Homo sapiens: one gene and its partner. The protein of the gene in region 1 interacts with the protein of each later gene in a pairwise test. Each region holds a gene or a part of one and is shown in the gene's direction. Other genes may lie near its edges.

Region 1 (6,994 bases):
ACAAAGTATATCACTGTAGGTGGGTATTGGAGCTGGAATTACATGGAAACCTCATATTCTAGGGAGTGACACAAGTAGGAAAAGGCAACCCAAAGTTACTTTTACCTTGGTCCTTATTCCTTATCTCCTTGGGTTTACAGAGATCTGTCTACATAAAATGGCAAAGAGGTTTGCATTGTAGTTTCTGTAAAGGGAATAGCTATGTAAAAAGAAGTAGTGATTGAGCATTAGGAAGGAAAACCAACATTTACGGATTTCAATTAGTGTTGCATCATTCTTGCATTTAACTTATGCACTGACTTGCAAGCCTACCCCAGTGTAGATATAACATCCTGGCATTTATCTTGTGTGCACTGCCCTAGGTGTTACCATATATATATATATATGTTTTATATATATTTTTTTCTCACTTAATTCCCCCAAAGATTCTGAGACAGGTTTTTGTAAATCTTACCTCAGGAAGCTAAAGCATGGAGAAATTTACCCAGAGCTGGAGCTTGAGGCTATATATTTTTTTTTTTCTGAGGATAGGGAGAGATGATACTGTGTATGGTAAACTTATTAATATTTGTTAATTCAGCCAACATTTTGTGTATACTGTATGCAAGATGCTAATAGATATGCTGGAGAAAATTAAGACAGTGAATGGATTTGATGCCCTGTGAAGCATAAGAGGTTACTGTTATTTCTAATTACTACAAGAATTCTTGCTTCTTGGTGCATAAGATCTACTGTGGGGAATAGTACAAGTGCTGACCATCTGACTTTAGAGCTGAACAGTTTGGGACTTGATCTCAGCTTCCCTATTCACTGGTTACTGGGAGCTTGTTTTCCTATCTGTAAGATAGAGGCAATAAAACCTAGCTTATCATGCGAGACTATTGAATGCAAGGAGAGAATATTAAAATTCATCCCAGTAAGTCCACTGTAGTCCTAGGCAGCATGACAGAGGTCACAGATCTTACAAGTAACATATCAATGGCAAGTTGGGGATAAGGATTTGGTTTTTAGGGTTTTACTTTCTGTTTTTGATGACTCTTATTTTTGAGAAAATGTGGAAGGAGTAAGTAGAAGAACAGTTTTTTTCAGTGCAACATCAGGCAAAAGAAAAGCAGATTTTTTTCAGATGGTTAAAGCCTATGGCAAAATAGCTAACTTTCTCTTTAAGGTGATTGGTAACCTGGAAAGGACAGCTGGCGTGGGCAGAAAACTTGTTCAAGACAAACACTGTCCCAGCATTTTTTAAATTCCAGACATTACCCTGGGGCAAACACCTCAACTTTTTCTTTCATACCACCTTCCAATATCTTACTCCTGAGCCTAGGGTGCTCAAACCAAACTCTGCTTCTGATGTGTTGTCAGTTTTCTCTAAAATCACTTATCTTCTGTGGGACTGGAGTCAGGCTGATGTGGAAGGCTCCCGCAAACCCTATTTAGGCTCTCTGGAGACAGAATGGGTGGTTGGAAATGGAAGGGGGAATGAGGGAAATTTAACCCCATAGAATATCTTCCCCATGAGAGTAGCTTAGCACTACACGAAGAAAGCTAAAAACCACAGACTTCCAGGGCTTGTCTGATACGCAGGTTCCCTTGAGTGCTCTAATAGGTATTAGAAATAATATGATAGGGAAACAAGCTCTTGTAGGGGAGGAAGAATCTTTTTCTCTACCTATCTTAGGTTCTCCGGCTGGGTCCTTGTGCATTAGACTGGCCAAAGACAGATGAACAAAAGTAAAGCAAGTTTATCAACACGTGCGTTGTTCATATAGGTAACATGGGAATACTCAGAGATAAGCAACTCAAAGATTTGGTTAGAACTTGGGTTTATACAGCATATTAGCCAAGGAACAATAAATTTTTAAAGAAATGACAAGATAAAGGATCTTGAGTCTCTAGGGGCAGCAAATTGTCGGAAAACAAATATATGGGAGACTAGTTGCAGATGAAGGCCAAATACTAAGGTTTATCATGTAGATTTTTCTTGTGTTGTCTCCAGGCTGACAGGGGTCTAAAATTGTCTCTGGTGATTAATCTTTGTCTTTCCTGGTAGAGCAGGAAGGAGGTACACCTTCGTAAACTTATATCCTGCTTTTTGGCAAATAGAGGGAGGGCAGAGTGCTTTTCTAGTACCGTGTACCTATTTGCTTCTTCCTAATTGCCTTCAGCTCAAAATAATCCTTAAACCAAAGTGGCATACACTGCCAATGCTCTTGAGTAGATTGAAGGCTCCAAAGTAAAAAGTGCTGTACTGTAGTATTGGATCTCCAAGCATCAGCAGTGAGTCAGGTATTACAATGCTGTTTTCAGTGAGTGTGCCATCCGTCTATGAGGAGAAATGAGAGGAGCTAGAAAAATAAACTGACAGCTAGAAAAATACTCCACTGAATCAACAAATAGACATTTCTTGAAACAGTAACATGCTCAATGTGCAATTTTGAAAAAGTAAACTGAGCAAGGATCATGAAACATGATGGTGGTGAGAATTTATACTTCTCAGGTAGCCAGGGGAAGCTAGGTTTCCACAGATTCCTTTGTCTTTCAGTCCTTTTGAAAACGGAGAAAAAGCAAGAGAAGAGGGACGGCACCATCAGGTAGAGTGGATCTCAGCTAGAATGAGGGGAAGTGGCCCAGAATCCAACCTCCTCCAAAGAGCTGTGTGACAGGCAAGTCCTATCCTTTCTGCACCTCTTTCCTTAAATGTAAGTTGAAGCATTTGGACCAGACTGTTTCAATGATCTTCTAGATTGCTTTTGCCAAAACAGAACTCTCCATTCCTGTAAGATAAGTACACAATGGCTCTCAGAGATCTAAAAACTGGCCTTGGTTACCTGCAAACTTTGAGGCCCCAAGGCACAAAAATAATAGCTTTTTTTTTTTATTTTTTTTTTTAAGGTTCATGAAAGCTTCGGACACAAAAGCTTATATGGTCTTCGTCTCTATAAATAAACCAGGGAGTAAAGAAAAACCCCGCTAGTTTCAGTAAAGCGTTGCTATTAAGCAAAGCAAACCTATGCAAATATCAAGTTCTTAATGAGGAGTGTTTCCTAAGGGGCCTGTCCTCTGGTACCCCGCCTCTCCTCTGCCACAGTCATGTGAAGGCAGACAGGCACACACTCGCACACTAGCACGCACTTGGGAGCTCAGGGAACATAACACTGGTTAGTGAGTCGGTGTCCCTCTCCCATCGATTGCAACTTTTCCCCTCCTTCCCTCTCCTGCCTCTCCCCACTTTCTACATCTCCGTTCTCAGGAAGGCTCAGGGAGGATCCCCCGCTGCGTGCACTGCGTTCTGAGAGGCCGGGGAGAGACTCTGGGCCCGCGGTCGGGGCGGAGCCAAGGTCCCAACCCACATTGAACGGGCTTGAGGATTACTTGGAGGGCTCAGGATCTAGGAGGAGGGCCCAGGGCACTGGGTTGGGGTTACTCTGGGAAAGCTCTGTGGGACCAGGTGGGACCTTAGGGCTGGAGATGGACTCTGCGAGCTGGGGGCGGAGTTCTAGACTGGCAGGAGCGGAGTTCTGGGTGGCGGGGGCGGGGTCGGGACCAGCAGGGACGGCCTCTGAGAGTTGGGGGCGGAATTCTGGGCCGGTGAGGGCTGGGGCGGGACCAGCAGGGGAGGCCTCCGCGAGCTAGGGGAGGAGCTCTGCATTGTCTGGGGCGGGGCTTCGAGTAGCGGTAGCGAGGTCTGGAGCCGCAGGCGCTGCCTCCGCGAGGTAGGGGAGGAGCTCTGTACTGTCAGGGGCGGGGCTCTGAGTAGCGAGGCCGGGTCTGAACTATCAGGCGCGGCCTCTGCGAGCTGGGGGCGGGGTTCTGCACCGGCGGGGGCGGGGTTGTGAGTGGTGGGGGCGGGGTCTGGAGCAGCAGGCGCCGCGTTTGCGAGCTAAGGTCGGAGTTCTGCACCGGCGGGGGCGGGGCTCTGCGTGGCCGGGGCGGGCTCGGGATCCGCGGGGCGACTCCCGGTCTGGCTTGGGCAGGCTGCCCGGGCCGTGGCAGGAAGCCGGAAGCAGCCGCGGCCCCAGTTCGGGAGACATGGCGGGCGTTAAAGGTACATCGCGGTCCCCGGCTCGCTTGTCGTGTGGTGGGGTTGCCACCTCCGTTCCGGTCAAGCCTGGGGCTGCGCCTTCCGCGCGCCGTTGGGGAACGGCCTCACCACCCTTCCCGCCTCTCCGGTTCGGGAGGCGATCGACCGCTCCCTTCGTCCCTTGGGGTGTGGGTGGAGCGGCGTTTCGGGGGAGCCTTGGCCCTTTTTGCAAGGCCGCTGGCCTTCCTGCTCTCCAGTGGCGGCACCAGACCCCTCCCCAGCCTGAGCCCTCGGCGAGAGCGGCGCCCTCCACCTCTCCTGAGTTTTTAAACAAGGTTTCCACTTCTTGACGCCACCCTAACGCCTTTCTTCTGGTTTTCTGCCCCTCCGCAGTTTCCTATTTGCCACAAAGGACCCTTTGTCTCCAGCGTTCTTAGCATTGGGAAACTTAATCCTCTTTTTCCTAATGATTTTTCCAACTGGGCAGAGTTGACCGCGGGCGGGTGTCAATGGAAAGCACCCAGAAAGACGGTGTTTCTCGCAGTCGTGGAGAGTAGATTACGTGTAATTTTAATACTGCTTTCTTCGGTGTTTTCTCTGTTTATGGACAGAGAAGAAACCAGTGTGTGTGTAGTATGTGTTTTTTGCATGGGGCAGTTGGTAAAAACACCGCGTCCCTTATCTGTATGGCTTCAGAGCAATGCGAGACGGAAAAGGTTTTTTGCAAGGCTTCCTGTATTTTGGTAGGAAAACATTCCATTTCTAATCTGTCGAATAGAGTAGCATGACTTGTTTTTATATTGGCTTTTATATCATCCTTGAAATTTGCACCCAAAGATATCCCCAGTTAACATCTGCTATAAACATGTAGATAGTATATATACGAGTACGCCTCTGTTCACTATGAATTTATCCGAGTATGTGAGCTGTTAGCAGCAGACATTTTATCGTTATTTCTGGCTGACTTTTATACTTAATATCAGTTTAGTAAACATGGTTTACTTGGAGAGTGTCGACTGTGTTATATATCCATTTGAAGCCAATGCCGAAAACAGATGAAAAGTAGTGTCTCAGTACTACACATGATCAGAAACTACCAAATCATGATCACGTTTATGTGTGAATGTGTTAGAAAATTGTGATGTAGTGAAAAAAAAGGAAGTCTGAAATGGAAACGGACTAAGGGAAGGAAGCATTTTACAGATTGTTCAACTTTTATTGAGGAACTACTGTATGCCAGAGACTTAGGATACAAAGATAAATGAGAAGTTATTGGTGGGTGACAGAGCTGGAAATAATTATATTACTATGTCAGTGTTTATGTTGGGCTCAGATGCGGTGGGAGAACAGATGGTGGGTTGGATTTTGTCCTCCAAAAAGATGTGTTCAAGCTCTAATTCCCTGGTACCTGTGAATGTGATCTTATTTGGAAGTAGTATCTTTGCAGATATAATCAAATTAAAATGATAACTGGTTTAAGGTGGGCCCTAATCCAATGACTGGTGTCCTTATAAGAAGAGGGGAATTTAGACATAGAGACATACAGGGAGAATACCATGGGAAGACGGAGACAGAAATTGGAGTGATGCAGCTACAAAGTCAGGAGCACCAAAGATTGTTGGCAACCATGCTGGCAACCACTGAGTGTTAGGAAGAGGCAAGGAAGGGTGCTTCCCTACAGCCTTCAGAGGGAGTGTGGTGGCGCTGCTGACACCTTGATTTCAGAAGTCCAGCCTCCAGAACTGTCAGAAGATAAATTTCTGTTGTTCTCAGCCATCCAGTTTGTGGTACTTTGTAACGGCAGCCCTAGGAAGCTGATGCAGGTGGGATTGATTCCCCTGCTCCAGAGAAAGGACTGTTTTCACAGAAGAGGCGATGCTTGAACTGAATCTGAAGGGATCAATGTGGCTTCCCTTGGCAAGGCATGGAGTGAAGGTGGAGTATATCCCAAGTGGGGAGGACAGCACGTGACATGGCGCAGGGCTTATGAAACAACATGCCTTCTTCTCTTCAGGTACTTAAGCTACATTAGTAAGACCAGAACTTAGTGGTGAGGGTTGAAGCTGGCTGGACAGGCAGTTAGGAGTGAGTCAGGCGATGGTGAGCCTCCGTGCCAGAACAACTTGTAGGCTGTGGAAGCAACCGCAAAGGGATGGCAGCGGTGATATATATAGTTGAAAGATCACTGTCTGCTGTGTAGAGGATGGATTGGAAGAGTCACAGAGGCAGGAATAAGAGGTTAAGGGCCTGCACCAGGGCTGTAGCAGAGAGTTTAAGAAGTCTGGGAGATTGAGTCACCTTGACCTACTGATTCATTGGAAGGTGGAATGCAATCATGGTGTCAGTCCTCTAAGATAGGACCTTTAAAGTGTAGGGATAGTGGTTTGGTTTTACACGTGTTACACATGTTGAATTTGAGGTTCTTGTTGGCGGTCAAGGCAGAGAAGTCCAGACTGGAGGTGGAAGTACAGGCCTAGTTCTTTAGGACCTACTCTGGGCTGGAGCATCAGTTGCGGCCGGGCCCTTGTGGTAGTAGGAGCTTTGGGTTGAACATAAGTTTTCAGCAGGAGTGCGTGGAGTGAAAAGAGAGATGGGGTTGGATTTTTGGTCAACTCCAACTTTAAGAGATTCAGAGGATGTGATTCCTGAAAAAAGAGGAAAAAAAAGACCAAAAAGAATCAAACAGAAAGATGGTTGTGAACGTTGAGAAACTGGTATCAGAACAGAAGGAAGAGGTCTGCAGTACCTAGCTTTGACAGGCCTCATGGAGGAGGGGGTACTGCCGATGGTCAGGCACAGAGGAGAGGAGCAAAGCCTGCTGGGAAAAGATCATCTGAATGAAATAGTATGTGGTATTTGCTTTCCATCCACACATGGGCATTTTCCATTAAAGAGTGGAAATGTAAAAAGATATGTTAAAATTGACAGTGTTTCTTTGTCCCTTAACATGTGTATACTTTCAGATGTTTTTTA
Region 2 (7,034 bases), on another chromosome or scaffold:
ATGGGCTGCAATAGAACCTTAGATATGTTCAGTGTGACTGCTGGTATCACAGTTCTAAGCTTGAATATTATATTGTAAGATGGGAATAATGAAACTGTTGTTAGTTGTAGCAAAAATTGCTTGAGTTTATTATATTCTCCATTTCTAAGTGAGCAGTATTTGGAGTAAGATAAGCTGAATTTTGTGAACATCAAGTAAAGATTTTTTATTTATCCTTTAGGCAGAGAGCACAATTTTAACACCTATAGTGACGATATATCAGATTCCCTGAATGTTCCCTATGATTACACTTCAGTAATGCACTACAGTAAAACTGCATTCCAAAATGGAACAGAGCCGACAATTGTCACAAGAATCTCAGACTTTGAGGATGTGATCGGCCAACGAATGGATTTCAGTGACTCTGATCTCCTAAAGTTGAATCAACTGTATAACTGCTGTATGTGACAGGTTCTTTGAAATGACTTATATTTTCCGCTGTTATGTAGGAAAAAATGATGGTCTGTGCCATTTTGTCAAGCATTGGTGGGGTTTCTGCGATTATAGAGATTTGATATTCAGGAAATAAACAGAATAGCACTCAGATCTCAATCTACAACTTGGAAGCAGCATTTTTCTTTTCACCACGTCTGGTGTTGAGATCTAAAAACAAATTGGGTCCTGTAGGAATATGCCTCAGGCAAGTTTTTAAAGCTGTTACTAATTCAAACCTCGGTCAGATTGATACTCACACTTCCTTTTAGCCAAAATGATATGTCTAGTTGTAATATGAATGGGATCAAATAATCTGGATTGTGGCTTAATGATTCGAATAACTAGGGGAGTATAGACTCAGGTTTCTACAAATTAGAAAATTTTTTTTAAAAAAGACTTCAGGCAGGGAGCTTATTCAGATCTACAGAATTCATTACCTTCTTTGTAGGGGTTCTGCAAATAAAGAGGGATCTTTAAGCCACCATCATCCAGAATCAGCTAGGTGTTCCCTGTAATACCAACCTGGCATTTCTAATACTGTGATAAGTTCAGTTTTTGTTACTTAGATTATCATGTTGTATGAGTGTCAATAATTGTTTTTTGCTTTTTGTAGCCTCTTCCTTGAGTTTTATGGACTCGTGCAGTTTTGAACTGGAAAATGTGTGTGGCATGATCCAAAGTTCAGGAGATAATGCTGACTGGCAACGGGTTTCACAGGTTCCCAGGGGGCCAGAGAGTGATCACTCCAACATGGGCCAGTGCCAAGGTAACAGGAGTGAGATATTCCTAGACTGTATACTCAGTGGCTACAGCCACATACTTCTCTATGAAAGAATGGGATTTTATCTCTAATTTCTATCAGAATTATTAATGATTATTCATTAGGTTACTACTGAGAAGTAGGCCTTGCACCTGATAAAGACATTGTTAATTTCTTTGCTTTTCCTTCCTGAGTTTATTTTTCTTTCTACAAGTCAGAGCTGGGCTCTGTGATGCCTCTACCAGTGCGTTCCCATAGGAGAGTGTACCAGACTGGGCCTCCTGCAAGGCCTCTTATCTCAGGGGCAGTACTATTGTTTCCTAGAAGTTTGCAGAATACAAGAGACTCTTTCCAATGGACAGCACTAGGCTGCGAATTATTGTTTCAGAACTGTAGCTGGATGTGATTATATGCTCCTGTTACAAAAATATCTAAAAAGCAGAGTTTATTTAATTTTCTTCAGATGCGTATCCTTTTCCATTTTCATTTTGTTTTGCCTTAAGTAGTTATTTGGCTACAAGGACCAAATTTTTACGTATTTGCTTATTCTGGCATCAAATATGTAAAACTAGACTTCAGAACTTAGGGCCAGTGCTTAATAGCTCAGATGATCTAGGCAGGAATTGGAGGCCTCTAATGGCAAAAAGGTGCTTTTCCTTTTATTTTTCTTTTTAAATGCATATTTGGATAGTGGATAGTGGTCCTACTCAGACCAGAGGAAAGTAGATAGGGAGGGAGGGGGAAAAGAAGAAGAATCCAGACCAGGTAGCTCTCACTTTTTTCTGTTTTTGAAAACTAATTTCTGTGGTAAGGGAAAGGTTCCCTAATGTTGTCTCTTTCATAAATCGCCTGCTCCTAGAACCATATTTAAATGCCCAACACAATTCCCTGCATATAGTGGAAACTAAGCGAATACTTGAAATAAGGTAAAGAAAATTGGGCCGGGTGCAGTGGCTCATGCCTGTAATCCCCGGCCTTTGGGAGGCCAAGGTGGGCGGATTACCTGAGGTTGGGAGTTTGAGACCAGCTGGGCCAACATGGTGAAACCCTGTCTCTACTAAAAATGCAAAAATTAGCTGGGTGTGGTGGTGCATGTCTGTAGTCCCAGCTAGTTGGGTGACTGAGGCAGGAGAATCACTTGAACCCGGGGGGCAGAGGTTGTAGTGAGCTGAGATCATACCATTGCGTATCAGCCTGGACAACAGAGTAAGACGTTGTCTCAAAAAAAAAAAAAAAATGAAAGAAAATATATATACACTCAAACCAGAATTACTAGCTGTGCCTTCTTTAGAGATGGCTTAGAAGGTTAAGTATTGCAGATAATGAAAGCAGATAAGTGGGAGGTGCCTCTGAAATTATCAGGTTCAGTTATTCTCAATTTTTTCATTACAAGTATCATTTTAAAAATATTAAAATGTGAATCTCCCCAGATGGTTGCTGTAGTTAACAATATCTTCTGAAAGTTGAATTTCTTTCTTCCTTTTCTTTTTTTCTTCCTTCTTTTTTTGTGACAGTTTGAAGCCAAAGAAGTTAGAAAGTGTTTAAAAAAAAAAGGGGGGCGGGCAGGTCAGCCAAGGCCCTGGTTTCCTGGCTGGACTCTCACCTCTGTCCGCAGTGTGTGTTCACCTTTCCAGAAAGACCTAGAAGTTCACGTTGAATTACCCTTGGGAGACACAGATGCTACAACTCTCTACCCACCCAAGTTTCAAACCCTCGTTTTGACTTAATTTCCATTTTCCTTTTTCATATTCTCAGCGGGGGAACAACCCTCTGTAGCATCTTTGTCCAATGGTAGCTCTTTCCACTTGGAGCTGGACCAGGGTTTTGGACACTTGAAAGGTGTCCCATGTAGAATCTACCTTTTAGCCCTGCTGTTTGGGCTTGACCTGCAGCCTTACAGTGGATTTTTAAAAAGTTAGCATTTGATACTTAAACTTGCTTTATCTTTATAGCTCATAACAAATGAAGATAAGCAAGGATTAGTGCCCACGGAAAACTACTATTGTAAGTAAACGTTTTATAAATAATAGAGAGGTTTGAGTTTTATACTGTTATGTCAATCTGCTAGCTTTTGCAAGTGCCAGATATGTAGCTTAGGCTTCTGTCATTTCTCCCTGGCGATTTATATATGGATGTTACTTATGCCTCGCGTAAAGAATCTAGCACCACCATTAACAAACACACATTCCTATACCCAGTATCTGTTTTTCTCTCAATTCTGCTTTTCTTTAACAGGTTCTGGTTTCTTCATGCATTTCGATAGCAGCTCTGTAAATGTGGGGGCCACAGCAGTGCTGGAAAGTAGAACGCTGTACCCTAAAAGAGGATTTCAGTGCCTGCAATTTTACTTATATAACAGTGGCAGTGAAAGTGATCAACTGAACATCTATATCAGGGAGTATTCTGCAGACAATGTGGATGGCAATTTAACCCTTGTGGAAGAAATAAAAGGTACAATGTCAACATCCTTATTGTCTGGATTTAAAATGAGGCAATCTTAGGTCTTTTCTTTAGTTAATGCAACAATTTACAATAGGGCAGGGGCTACTGAGTCACTATACTTCAACTAAGAACTAGATTCTTGTTTTAAGCTGTGGAAAGGAAGCTAGAATGAAGATTCTTTCTGAGTGCTCTGTTATGTAACACTCACTTAAGAAACTGTAGATCAGTCTCTGGCACTATGGAGGTCAGTTCTTGGCAAATAATAAAAATACAAGGCTGGGCGCAGTGGCTCACACCTGTAATCCCAGCACTTTGGGAGGCCGAGGCGGTCGGATCACCTGAGGTCACGAGTTTGAGACCAGACTGGTCAACATATAGTGAAACCTTGTCTCTACTGAAAAAATACATAAATTAGCTGGGAGTGGTGGCACACGCCTATAGTCCCAGCTACTTGGGAAGCTGAGGCAGGAGAATTGCTTGAACCCGGGAGGCGGGGGTGGCAGTTGAGCCGAGATCATGCCACTGCACTCCAGCCTGCGCGACAGAGCAAGACTCCATCTCTGAAAAAATAAATAAAATAAAATAAAATAAAAATAAAATACATAAAAATACAATGTGAACTAGCTTAGGCAAAATAGGATGGGCTCCTGGCTAAATGTTAGTTACAGCCTGTGGGACAGATGAGGGAGACACTGGCTTGAGGGGGAATTATTAATAGATCTGTCTCTGAACATTGCTGGGGACCTCTTGTTTTATCTCAGAATGGCTGTCTTTATAAGACTGGTACTTCGGTTGTTTCACTTCCCAGCTTACATTTGACCAAATTTGCTATCAGTCTGGAAAAAGGACTCTTCCTCTAATATAAAGCTTAAAAAATAAATCCCAGTGAAGAACTGGGATACTTATGTCTTAAGTTAAACACAGCTTCTGGAGCAATTCCTGAGTGGGAAATGGGTACCCACCCTTCATACCAATAATGTGTCAGAGAGGAGAGCCATGTTGACCACCTATGCAAGTAGATGGTTAAGGGGGTGACTGAGAAAGGGAGGGGCTGTGGGCTGGCAAATATATTACTGTCTATTCCACCTAATCATCTCATGACTTGAATGAATTGAGTAATTCAATTTGTTCCACAATTGGATCCATATTATGCAATATAGTATGCCATTTTCCTCCTGTTTTCAACAATGAGAAACAATCTGAAATACAGGCGATATTTTTCTTTGTGAACACCTGTAAGCAGTAAGGTTCTTAATCTCACTAAGCATATACACACATTATACATATATATTATTTATGTAACAATGTAAAATATATAAAGAATAATTATATATAATATATTATATATTACATATATAAAAGCCTTATATATAAGCCATATATGTTACTATAAATATTATATTTTATGTATTAATATCTAAATTAATACAAATATTGATATAATGTATCTGTAATATATATAATTGTCCAGGACTGGAAGGGGGGTCCTTCCTATTAGCAATCTGTGGGTTCGTCATTGATACACAATAACACAAAAAGGCACTTAAGAAGCTTGCTTATTTTCTGTCATTTGGGTATGTCTAGCTTATTTTCAAGTAACTGTGTTTCACATTAAGTGCCAACATATTTTTGTTTTAAGACTTTGTGTTAACCACTAGTTTGACATGAATTCCTCAGCTGTTGTTCATCTGGGGGCCTCTGCAGATTATTTAGTATACTGCTTCTTATTTGAGTATGTGATATAAGAAAATCAGACAGAATGGCATATTATGTGCTGCTAGCGAGGGGTATGGGCTAATAGTTGGGGAGGAAGTACAGGTTGGAAAGAAAGGAGGTGGTACCAAATATCAGATAAATACTTACAATGCTGAGTTACTGGGAAGTGATCTAAAGAGTAGATTGCAGGATGTAGGCTTTCTAGGGTTTGGTGGATTTTGTTTAATATTACCAAAAAGTTGATTGAAGACTTTGTATGTGAGGGAAGTATTCCAATCAAACTATAAATATATTAAAGAAGGCTTTGCCTGAGTATCACAGGAATCTTGAGTAGAAGTGTTACAAGTGTTGGGTTTGCTGGCCCTTTAATGGAGAATGGCAGGTAACTCATAGGTAGGGCATGAAGTACTCATGAGCTAGATGTTGTTATTTACTCACCGATCTCTAGGAAAGGGTGATCTATTTGAGAAACAGCTAGACAAACGTTCAGCTATTCCAGAGAACAGTGTGACCCCACAGAAGCACCTTGAAGTAAATAATTCTAGGCTGGAGCTTTGGCAAAACCATACTTCTGACCTGTAGAAATAAATCGGTTTTGGATGACCCTTTGTCTAAGAAGGCTAGAAATCTAATGTTGACATGTACATGATTTGAACTTCTTTGTCTTTGAAATAATAATGACTCTTTTGCAGAAATACCCACTGGGAGCTGGCAACTTTATCATGTAACATTGAAAGTGACCAAGAAGTTTAGAGTGGTGTTTGAAGGACGCAAAGGCTCTGGTGCATCACTGGGTGGTCTGTCTATTGATGACATCAATCTTTCGGAAACACGGTGCCCTCATCATATCTGGCATATAAGGAATTTCACACAGTTCATTGGCAGCCCAAATGGAACTCTGTATAGCCCTCCATTTTACTCTTCTAAAGGTTATGCCTTTCAGATTTACTTAAATCTAGCCCATGTGACTAATGCAGGGATATATTTCCACTTGATCTCTGGAGCCAATGATGATCAATTACAGTGGCCATGTCCTTGGCAACAAGCCACAATGACACTTTTGGATCAAAATCCTGACATTCGACAGCGTATGTCCAATCAGCGGAGTATAACTACAGACCCATTTATGACCACCGGTTCGTAACTCATTTTCTTTATTGCTAATAAACAATCATTGCTCTAGGAGGGACTGATAATTTTGGGAATGAGGGATTGCACAGTTAGTTACCTAGGGAATTTTGAGCCCCAAATCTTAAGAACAGATATTTAGGGGAAAGGTTTCAAGAATTGTGGACTGAGTCTGTCAGACAGGAGCTCATCACAAATGTCAGCAAGGACTCCAACAAATGCTGACTGTATTCCTAAGAACTGATGGCCCTTCTCAAATTTCCACTTCTGTGCAAGAAGTGTTGGTTTTAGAGTCTGACATGCCTGAGTTCAAGTCCAAAGTTTGCTTCTCATTAGTTATGTAATCTTGAGCAAATAATCTCTTAGGGCCCCAGTGTCCTCAGCTGTAAAGCCAGGGCTGTAGTAATCATTCCACAGATTTGCTATGAGAATTAGTACAGGTCAAGTGTGGAAGCTGTGGAAAGGCCTGCGGTGGAGAGGCCCTCAGATGTTGGGTTCTTCTAACTCATGCTAC

The links.
Region 2: the proteins of LEPROT (region 1) and MEP1B interact in a protein complementation assay, tested with the Homo sapiens proteins (one study listed by IntAct).

Annotation. Positions count from the first base shown.
Region 1 is NC_000001.11:65,416,696-65,423,689, forward strand, and holds the start of LEPROT (leptin receptor gene-related protein), read left to right. Parts: upstream 1-3,972; 5' UTR 3,973-4,029; coding exon 4,030-4,045; intron 4,046-4,632; exon of another isoform or gene 4,633-4,721; coding exon of another isoform or gene 4,722-4,764; intron 4,765-6,994. UniProt on the Homo sapiens protein: Negatively regulates leptin receptor (LEPR) cell surface expression, and thus decreases response to leptin. Negatively regulates growth hormone (GH) receptor cell surface expression in liver.
Region 2 is NC_000018.10:32,207,032-32,214,065, forward strand, and holds part of MEP1B (meprin A subunit beta isoform 1 precursor), read left to right. Parts: intron 1-220; coding exon 221-439; intron 440-1,087; coding exon 1,088-1,240; intron 1,241-3,469; coding exon 3,470-3,685; intron 3,686-6,084; coding exon 6,085-6,528; intron 6,529-7,034. UniProt on the Homo sapiens protein: Membrane metallopeptidase that sheds many membrane-bound proteins. Exhibits a strong preference for acidic amino acids at the P1' position. Known substrates include: FGF19, VGFA, IL1B, IL18, procollagen I and III, E-cadherin, KLK7, gastrin, ADAM10, tenascin-C.